Regions from separate parts of the Homo sapiens genome. Here region 2 is linked to region 1. Evidence: fine-mapped expression QTL. A gene starts in region 1. The other region holds a variant in brackets. All regions are shown on one strand. Distances are between the middles of the regions. Region 1 holds the start of CDV3 (CDV3 homolog). Region 2 has its middle 37 kb from the start of BFSP2-AS1.

Region 1 (5,375 bases):
GGCTCAACTGCCCTTTGCCAGCTCTTGAGCTCATGGAATATTGGAACTCAGCAGGCCTTGTTGAGGGAGATATATGATGTCCTTCGGATTGCACCACTTCAGAGGACCCAGAGGGAAACTGCCATGTTCAGACAGCATTAGGAACCTTGGAAGATGTGCAGAAATACCTGGGAATAGTCTGCATTACTATACAAGTTTTCCATCTGGCAAGTACAAGTGAAAGTCTGTTTGCTTTAAGTATGCAGACGGTCCAAACACATTGGACAGCAGAGGGGAAGACACCTCTGTCAAGAGAGAGCTGGAGGAGCCGGGCACAGCGGCTCCTACTTGTGATCCCAGCTACTCAGGAGGCCAAGGCAGCAGGATCAATTGAGCCCAGGAGTTCCAGACCAGCCTGGGCAACATAGCAAGATCCCTTTCTCTAAAAATGTAAAAAAAAAAAAAAAAAAATTCAGCTGTACATGATGGCACCTGCCTGTAGTCCCAGCTACTCTGGAGGCTGAAGCCAGAGGATTGCTTGAGCCCCGCCTCTTAAAAAGAAAAAAAGAGAGAGAGGGCAGAAGGATGCTTCAAAGATGAGGGGGTGTCTGGTAACGATGATAATGATAGCATGATTCAGGGCACTGTGCAACCAATCTGGAGAAGGGTGGTAGGGGAGGTTTAAAAGGAGCAACTGATGGGAACAGATGCTGTCAATTTTAGGGCAGGTGATTCAAAGAGGAAGGGACCAGCTTCACAGAGGAGAGAATTACTACAAACAATGACACAACCACAAAGACACTGGTCTCTCTACTGGCCTGACCTGAATTTCTTACACATGATCAAGTTCTGGGATCATGCCATCAATCACACTGAAAAATGTAGTGGGAAATTCTGCAGCGTCAGCCCTCAACTACTGTTCCTTCTGTGTATTTTCTCAAGTCATTAATTCTTTCAAGACAATGATGAATTGATAAGGACTTAAGAAAGATATAAATAACTGAAACTTATTTATATCTAGATCTTCTCTTCTAGATTATAAGGGAATTGAATGCAGGAATCACAAATTACTCACTTTTGAATAAAGCACTTTGCCCGAAATATAGCAAAATAAGTGCTTCATAGATGAGGAAAGAAAGAGAGGGAGAGGGCCGGGCATGGTGGCTCACACCTGTAATTCCAGCACTTTGGGAGGCTGAGGTGGGTGGATCACGAGGGTCAGGAGTTTGAGACCAGCCTGGCCAACATGGTGAAACCCCGTCTCTACTAAAAATACAAAAATTAGCTGGGTGTGGTGGCGGGTGCCTGTAATCCCAGCTACTCAGGAGGCTAAGGCAGGAGAATCGCTTGATCCTGGGAGGCAGAGGTTGCAGCGAGCTGACATGCCATTGCACTCCAGCCTGGTGACAAGAGCAAGACTTTGCCTCAAAAAATAAGTAAGTAAATAAATAAATAAATAAATGAAAGAGAGGGAGGGAGGAAGGAAGAAAGAGGGGGGAGGAAGAAAAGAAGGAAAGAAAAGAGGAAGGGAGAAAAAAGAAGGAAAGAAAAAAAAGAAAGAAAATAAATTTGATTAGCGATGGTAAGGGAGGGTGATGGTGATGGGCAGTACTGAACCTGGCCTGCATCACAGGAAGATATATGTTGTCATAGAAGGAAGTCACCTTGGGAGCTGTTCATGTTTGGGGAATAGTATATGTATAAGCTCAAGCTACTTGCTGGCCAAGGCTAGGTCCTTGATTTCTTTTGACATTCAGAAGTTAGACTTTTTTTTTTTTTTTGAGACGGAGTTTCACTGTTGTTGCCCAGGCTGGATTGCAATGAGGCGATCTCGGCTTACTGCAACCTCCGCACCCCCGGGTTCAAGCAATTCTCCAGCCTCAACCTGTAGCTGGGATTACAGGCGTTAGCCACTACGCCCGGCTAATTTTCGTGTTTTTAGTAGAGACGGGGTTTCATTATTTTGGTGAGGCTGGTCTCGAACTCCTGACCTCAGGTGATGCGCCTGCCTCGGCCTCCTGAAGTGCTGGGATTACAGGCGTGAGCCACCGCGCCCAGCCAGAAGTTAATTCTTTAATAGCAGTGTAAGTAGGGGGTAGGAAAAGAGAAACTTTAATGGGGTAACTGTAAAGGAAAAGACGAAGAAGTCTCTCCATTTACTGGCTGGATTCTATCTACCCCATATGGCTACCAACATTTGTCTGAGTCATTTCCTCAATGGTTGTGACAGCTCCCTCTTCTGCTTTTAGAAGGAGGAAGTAGAAAGTTTAAGAGCTTACTTTAGACCACCTTTTGCATATAGAATTCATTTCATTTTCAAGGCCCCAAGGGTATTTAAATGGGCTTTAAACCCATTTAAACCTGGCTTTCGCCTGGGCATTTTGGTCTCCACCCCTATGATAAGACAGTCCCCTCCTTTTATCAGGGATAGAAGCTAAGGATAAACTGTATCATCATCTAGACTCAAGTCAGGGCGTTAAGCAATGTGCTGAGCAGCTAATAATGTTGACTCTCTTCCCTCCATCCCCCTATCTTGTAAGAAATAGTATACCCACTTTACAGATTAGGGACTTGACGATAGGATTTATTGAACTTGACCTTGGTAAACATAATCCAGAGGGTGGAGTTCAGACAAAATCCCTTTCTACCTACCAACCAGCCTATGAAAGATCTTTTAGTAAATGGGACCTAAACTTCAGGCTCACTGCTCCTCTCACTTTCACAATCAACCGGTAAAGAAGAAAAGTAATGGTTGCCACTCCAGAGGGGGTGGAAGTACAGAAGCGATCAGAGGAGAGGAACAATCTTTAACACAGTTGGCTTAACGCAGTGCCTGTCCGTTTCGCGACAGTTCAAACGACTACTATGGGGCCACGGTTTGTTCTGGGCCAGGAAACACACGTGCATCCTGCGCATGCGTCCAAAAGGAACCCACTGCCCCTCCTGCTGGACCTCTTTAGCCAAGTCATCAACCAGCCCTCAACATGCCCGCCCTCAAGACTAAACCCTCGGCCAATCGGGAAACCGGAGTCGCCCGGCACGTCACTTATTTTGCATATGCCCTCCTCTCCCCGCCCCCATGCTTGGACTCCGCCCCGTCTGGGTCAGGGATTGTCACCTAAGAGCTTCGTCCTGGCACCTGATTGGCTCTCTTTCCAGCTCCGCCTCCATCTCCTCCCGCCGCCCGCCCCTTGGCGATCCCACAGCGGCAGGCAGAGCAAAATACGCAGGCGCAGGCGCTTCCTCTCTCTTCTAGCGGCCCGCCCTCCCTCCTCCCTCTCCCTCCCCTCCCCACTCCCTTCCCCTCCTCTCCAGGCCTGCGCGCGCGCCTCTTCCTCCGGCACGCGCCGCTGCTAGCCGAGCACTCTCGCCAGAACCTCTGGCTCGCGCGTGCCTTTTCCCCTCAGGTTGTGGGGAGAGCGGAATCCTGCTCCGCCGTCGCAGCAGCAGCGGCAGCCCCGGCAGCCTCGGGCGACAGCGGCGGCGCGCGAGCCCCCGGGCGGACCGTACCACCGCTCGCCAGCACGCAGGGGGAGCCGCCCGTCTCGCCGCGCACGCCTCGGCGACCCCGCGGGGCTGAGGCGTCGCCGCGCCCGGCAGCGTGAGCGCAGAGCCGGCCTCGACCCCGAGCTCGGAGCCCCGCGGGCCGCGCCCGCCGCCGGCCCCACCCATCCGGGTCGAGGAGGCCGAGGCCATGGCTGAGACGGAGGAGCGGAGCCTGGACAACTTCTTTGCCAAGAGGGACAAGAAGAAGAAGAAGGAGCGGAGCAACCGGGCGGCGAGTGCCGCGGGCGCAGCGGGCAGCGCCGGCGGAAGCAGTGGAGCCGCGGGTGCGGCGGGCGGCGGGGCGGGCGCGGGGACCCGGCCGGGTGACGGCGGGACCGCCAGCGCGGGGGCTGCGGGCCCAGGGGCCGCCACCAAGGCTGTGACGAAGGTGAGGGGCCGGGAGGCCGGCACTCGGGGCCCGGGCCGCGCGCCGGCGCCCCATGTGCCCGCCCCCGCCTGCCGGGGAAGCGTCCGGGAGGGGCCGCGGAGGCCGGGCGGACGGGCGCGGGCCGCCACGTGACGCAGGCTCTCCACCTCGGGCTGGGCTCGCCAGGGCCGGGACCCCTTCCGATATCCGCGGTGGAGCCGCCCTTCCCACCCCGCGTCGCTCGGCGTTAGCCAAGGCCCGGGCGGCGCCACCCTCCGGGGGCACTAGGTCTGGGGCCGCAGTGCCCAGCACAGAGCAGCGTTTATCGGGTGACGTCTAGGCTGAGTAATTCCGTGTGCTGACCTCAGCCCAGTAGTTTGAGCTGAATTTTCGCTTTCAGCAGCCGCATTTGTAGCAGCTCTTTTGTGATGACTTAGTCTCTAAGCCCGTGAAAGAAAAAGAAAACTCTCGGTGGCAAGGTTGAAGTAGAAATGTAGTTGTGAAATTCCTATTGACTTCTTCCTTCGGCTTTTCTTAGTTGCTTAAAGTAACAGCTCCCATGCAGGAACCCAGCGGAAGTATAGTGTTAGCCTACGAGCATGTTTGTCCTCCATTTAGCCTAGTTTGCCCCAGAACGAAGCAAGGGCTTTGACCAGAAGACAAGTACATACTTAGTTTAGGTTCCAGCCACTTGATCCACTTTTCGTAGTGTGTTATTTGCTTAGTTATATGTCTACAAATAGCTTTAATTGATCAAATGGCGTTTGTTTTACAGGACGAAGATGAATGGAAAGAATTGGAGCAAAAAGAGGTTGATTACAGCGGCCTCAGGGTTCAGGCAATGCAAATAAGGTATAGTCTGGTTACAAATGTGTTTAGATAACCTTTGGGATAGATATTGGATACAAGTTAGGTTTTCCTTTGGCCCCAAAGCAGCATCATAGTAGCCTTGTGCTCTAGATATGCTTATTAGGACTCAAATGGGTTCTGTCTACTCTTTCTCACTCCATGGAGGCAGCCCTTCCGTGTGCTCATGAAATTAGCTGCTGACTCTAAAATCCTGTGAGAGCTTGCCTACTTCCAGTTCTGGTTAGGACTTTTCATTTGAGACAGCTAAAGTGGATTTTGTCGCTTCAAAATTTTTACTTTTAACATCGGTGATTGTACTTAGTTTTGGTTTCAAAAGTAATGTGGATGTTTTTCACATCCTCTCCAATAAGCAAGTGAATATATGTTTTTGTAATTGAAGTATATCATACTTACAGAGAGATAGAGGTTTTATGTGTTCACACAGTGCAACCAACCTGTGCAATAAGCACCAGGTCAAGAAACTGAGTATTACTGATACAGAACAAGGTTCCCCTCCTAACACATACTCACTGCATTCACCTTCAACATAACCACTATTCTAACACCATAATTTTTTCTAAAACTTCATAGGAATGGAATTATATTTGTAAACATGTTATTTTTTAAAGTTCAA
Region 2 (5,375 bases), 45 kb before region 1:
CAATTTGACAATATATAACAAAAACCTTAAAAGTTTGCTTACCCTTTGACCTAGAAATTCTACTGCCAGAAATGTATTCCAGGGATGTGCAGAGAGACTTAGTGAAGATTGTTTATTGCAAGGTCTGTAATAATAAACCACTGGAAACAATCTAAGGGTTTGACTATGGAGGATTAGCTAAACACAGTATGCTGTCCAACTGATGACCTTGCAGTCACTTGAATATTACAAAAACACATGAGGACATGGAAAGATGTTTGTGACATATAGGGAAGTGAAAAAAAGCAAGTCTGCATATTCAATAAGTCTCAATTACTGAGTATATTTCAGTAAGTAAGTGAGACTTACTGAATATATTTCAGTATATCACTATATATATATTTACTTAATATCAAGCAAATATATTCAGCAAATCTCACTTTCTATTTTTAAAAAATTTTTACACATAAATATATGCACGAGAAAAAAGGTCATAGTAATTATCCAAAATATTAACAGCAGTTGTTGCCAGCTAGTTAAATTAAGAGTAATTTTTATTTTCTTCCTTTTGTTTATCTGGCTTTTCATAATTTTATTTATTTATTTATTTATTTTTTGAGACAGAGTCTAGCTCTGTCGCCCAGGCTGGAGTGCAGTGGCGCAATCTCGGCTCGCTCACTGCAACCTCCACCTCCCAGGTTCAAGTGATTTTCCTGCCTCAGCCTTCTGAGTAGCAGGTATTACAGGTGACTGCCACCAAGCCCGGCTAATTTTTTTATTTTTAGTAGAGATGGGGTTTCGCCATGTTGGCCAGACTGGTCTCGAACTCCTGACCTCAAGTGATCTGTCCACCTTGGCCTCCCAAAGTGTTGGGATTACAGGAGTGAGCCACCGCACTAGGCTCATAATTTTCTGTAAGAATCCCACATTACTTTTTAGGGGAAAAATGTTTAATAACAATGCCTTTTTTTCTTTTTTTTTTTGAGGCAGAGTTTCACTCTTGTTGCCCAGGCTGGAGTGCAATTGTGCGATCTCGGCTCACTGCAACCTCTGCCTCCCAAGTTCAAACAATTCTCCTGCCTCCGCCTCCTAAGTAGCCGGGATTACAGGCATGCGCCACCACCCCCCTCTAATTTTGTATTTTTAGTAGAGACAGGTTTTCTCCATGTTGGGCAGGCTGGTCTTGAACTCCCAACCTCAGTGATCCGCCCACCTCGGCCTCCCAAAGTGCTGAGATTACAGGCGTGAGCCACCGTGCCCAGCCAACAATGCTTTTAACTGGCTTGCCAGATAAAATGCACCATGGGACATACTTACATTAAAATATTATTTATTATTTGTATAAAATTTAAATTTAACTGAGTGCCCTGAATTTTTCTTTACTAAATCTGGCAAGCCCACTTTTAATGTGAAGTAATAAAAGAAAGATCTGGGTGCTGGAACCAAATGGGCTGGCCTCTGTGAAGATAGGAGAGGAATTATTATTCCAAGTCTTTTAAATAAGAACATCAGGATTTTGGTGAAATAAGGAGGGAAAACCAATTTGAGAGCCACACAGTCCTTGTCTCAAATCTGGAGTCTACTATCACCATCACCACCACCACCATCATCCCACCTCACTCCCCTCTCTGTGTCCTGATCTGGATGTCCTGAAGCAAGTTATTTGTTTCCCCCCATTCTCAGTAATAGTGCGTATCTTCCAAGGATTAAATGAGAACATGTGTGTAAAGGCACCTTGTAAATTGCAAACTGCCAAACAGCAGGTTATTATCATGTTAGTAAATTACACACACAAGGACATGTCAAACAGGAACAAAACATCTGCCACAGACAACCACAGAATTGTTCCTTGCAGCACATTTTTGATGGCTCTCTGAGGTCAAAACAACTCAAGGTTTAGTCACTCCAGTGCTGAACCCATATATTAATATCTATCCAAATTGTTCTATGATCCTATTTATAGCTGCACTGATCATTAAATGTTGTTGGAACATTTTGCCTCAAGTCAGTTGTTAAATTGCTTGGCGAGTAGTGTGCAACGCGTGGCTCAGGGGAAGCCTGTGTGGTTTATGAGTTTGGCAGCTCATAACTCCAGGGCCTCACCTTATCCTCACACACTAGTCCTGGTCACCTTGGAAA[C/T]TGCCCTATTCTAGATGCAGAGCACAGGACGCCCTGGCTGACATGGAATTAATCAGCAGCCACCTTCTCTACTGGTCTCTGTTACTGGAAAAACGTCAGTGCCTCTCAAGCCACTTTAGGGAGGATCCATGGCAGAGTTTTAAGGATCTTCCAGGGAAAATTAATATAAGAGTCTGGGTTTTATGAGAAAATGGAAAAATAAGACAAGCAAGAAAGAAATTAAGAAAGAAAGAGGAAAAGACAGAAATAAGAAGAAAGAGAAAAAAAATAAGGAGAAGAAAAAAACCAGAAGATTATTATCCCATTTTACAGATGAGGAAACTGAAACTCAGATGCCCAAAGTTACTAAGCAAATAAGTATCAGAGCTCTGTTTCAAATCCAAGATAAACAAAATTCCTTCAGGAGAAAAAACTCCCCCCAAGAAGAATGAATTTTACAGATGTCCAAAGACGTAAAGAGACAATCACCTGTGTTTATGTCCTTCAGCTAGAGAGTAAATTCCAAAATTCCATGAAAATATATGAGGATACCCCATTGGATGGACATTTTTTAAAGTGAAAAGGCTCAAAGCCAGCAAAATGTGTTACTGAAACTCGTGCATGCAGATATGGTTGGTGACAACAAAAAGCAATTTGTAAAATTTAACAGGAGTCATAAAAATGTTACTAGTTTGTTCCAGTTACTGTTGCCTATAACAAATTACCCCAAAAATTTAGCAGCTTAAAATAACCATTTAATGATATCCATGGATTCTGTGTGTCAAGAATCTAGACAAGGCACAGTGGGGTGGCTTATCTCTGCTCCTCAATGGGTAGGGCTTCAGCTGGGAAGACTCTATGGCTGCGAGGACTTAGTGGCTAGGGTTGGAACATCCAAAGGCTCGACTGGGCTGAAAAATCCTAGATGGCTGCCAGTTGGTGTTAGCTGTTGGCCAGGAACTCAACTGGGCTATCCTGGAGAGCATCTATCTGTGGCCTCTCTAGCATGGTGATCTCGAGGTAGTTCAACTTTGTGGCTGACTCTCCCAGGAGAAAGAATCAGGCAGCAGCTTCATGGCATTTTCTGACCAGTCACACAGTATCACTTTCACTGCATTCCCTCAATTGAATCGGTCACAGCTGGACACAGTGGCTTCGGCCTGTAATCCCAGACTTTGGGAGGCCAGGGCAGGAGGATCACTTGAGCCCAGAAGTTCGAGACCAGCCTGAGCAACACAGGGAGAACCTGTCTCTACAAAAAATTTTTTAAAAATTAAAATTACCCAGGCGTGGTGGTGTGCACCTGTAATCCCAGCTACTCAGGAGGCTGAAGCAGGAGGATCACTTAAGCCGAGGAGGTCGAGGCTGCAGTGGGCCATGATGGTGCTGTTGCACTCCAGCCTGGGTGACAGAGTGACACCTGTCTCAAAATCAAAATAAAAATTGTTTTTAAAAGTGTTGAATATTGGCCGGGCACAGTGTCTCACACCTGTAATCCCAGCACTGTGGGAGGCCAAGGCAAGCTGATCACTTGAGGTCAGGAGTTCGAGACTAGCCTGGCCAACATGGCAAAACCCCATCTCCACTAAATATACAAAAATTAGCCAGGTGTGGTGATCCACACCTGTAATCCCAGCTACTCGGGAGGCTGAGGCAGGAGAATCGCTTGAACCCAGGAAGTGGAGGTTGCAGTGAGCCAAGATCACACCACTGCACTCCAGCCTGGGTGACAGACTAAGACTTTGTCTCAAAAAAAAAAAAAAAAGGCTGCACACTGTGGCTGACGCCTGTAATCCCAGCACTTTGGGAGGCCAAGCTGGGCGGATTACCTGGGTTGGAAGTTCAAGACCAGCTTGGCCAACACGGTGAAACCCTGTCTCTACTAAAAATACAAAAAATTAGCTGGGTGCAGTGGCACATGCCTGTAATCCCAGCTACTCAGGAGGCTGAGGCAGGAGAATCACTTGAACCTGGGATGCAGAGGTTGTGGTGAGCCAAGATCGTGCCACTGCACTCCAGCCTGGGTGACAGAGCAAGACTCCATCTCAAAAAAAAAAAAAAAAGGGTTGAATATCTTATGGAATTTATTGACTAAGTACTGAATGTGTATTGCTTTTACACCATAGTAAAGTTGAAAAATTGTAAGCCAAGCCATTGTAAATCAGAGTCTGTCTATATATATGTAGAGTCAAAGACCGAGAGGAAACACAAAGATGAAAACAGTTGCTGTTTACAGGACTGGAATTATAGGTGACTTTTTTCTCCCTTCTTTGTTTCAGAATTACTGTTGTTTAACTTCTTTATAATAATTTCTGAAATTGTCAAAGTCTAGGATAAAAAACAGCCACAGAAAATGAGAGCAACAGGGAGAGAGAAGAGGATGTGTGGGGAGTGTATCAGTCAGCTACTGCTATGTAACAAACCACCCCAGAACTCTGCATCTTAACAATTATTATTGATTGTTAAGCTCACTTGTGTGAGTCAGCTGAGGTATGGCCAATCTACGCTGAGCTTACTCATGCATCTGTGGGTTGGTTGGAGGATCTTCTCTAGGCTGGGTTTGTCCGGGGCAGCTCTGTTCCCCATGTTCCCTAGTGGGCTATGGGGAGCCATATTCTTCTCATGGTGATGGCAGAGGTGTACAAAGATAAGCAGAAACACCTGAGGTCTCTTGAGACCTAAGTGCAGAACTCAAGTGTGTTCACTTCTGCATTACTGACATAACCAAACCCAAAGTTTAGAGCCAGGTGGAATTCACAGAGAGAAGACACTGCCAAGTTACATTGCAAAGGATGTGGATACAGGAAGGGATGATAAATAGGGACCAATAACATCATCTAACTACAGGAAAGGAAAGGAAAATGAGAGATTGGACAGGATGAGAAGCAGTTCAAGGCAGGAGGTTCAAGGACACAGTGGATAACAGTTATTCTCTCATACTCCCCAAACCGGACCCCAACACACACACACACACACACACACACACACACACACACACACACACACACAAGAAGCATCTAGTCGTCTACCTAATATCCATTGCTTTTCTCCTATACAAAAAGAAATCTGACCCAGCTCCAGTCAGAGGGGATAGTTCCTACCTGGTCTAAGCTAATCTTTGCAGTCCATTTGCCTGGTGAGTGATTGGTTTAGGATTGGTCACATGATACAGTTCAGGCCAATAAGAAGTGAGAGAAAAATCTGCTGGCCAGTAGAAGGGTTTCTCTGAAATGTTTCTTGACTAAAAACAAAACAAAAACAAGCAAAAATCAGCAGCC

What was found.
Region 2: its variant is fine-mapped to the expression of CDV3 in pituitary (GTEx, PIP 0.98).

Annotation. Positions count from the first base shown.
Region 1 is chr3:133,570,372-133,575,746 of GRCh38, forward strand. It overlaps CDV3 (CDV3 homolog), which reads left to right and starts at 3,315. Exons shown (of 5, transcript NM_017548.5): 1 at 3,315-3,913; 2 at 4,668-4,744. The coding sequence starts at 3,674. RefSeq lists enhancers at 2,304-2,543, 2,486-2,987, 2,644-2,813 and silencers at 3,194-3,733, 3,754-3,863, 3,894-4,283.
Region 2 is chr3:133,525,474-133,530,848 of GRCh38, forward strand. No RefSeq gene overlaps it. Among named protein-coding and RNA genes, the nearest start is that of BFSP2-AS1, 37 kb to the left of the region's middle. The variant C/T (reference allele first, on the strand shown) is at 2,119.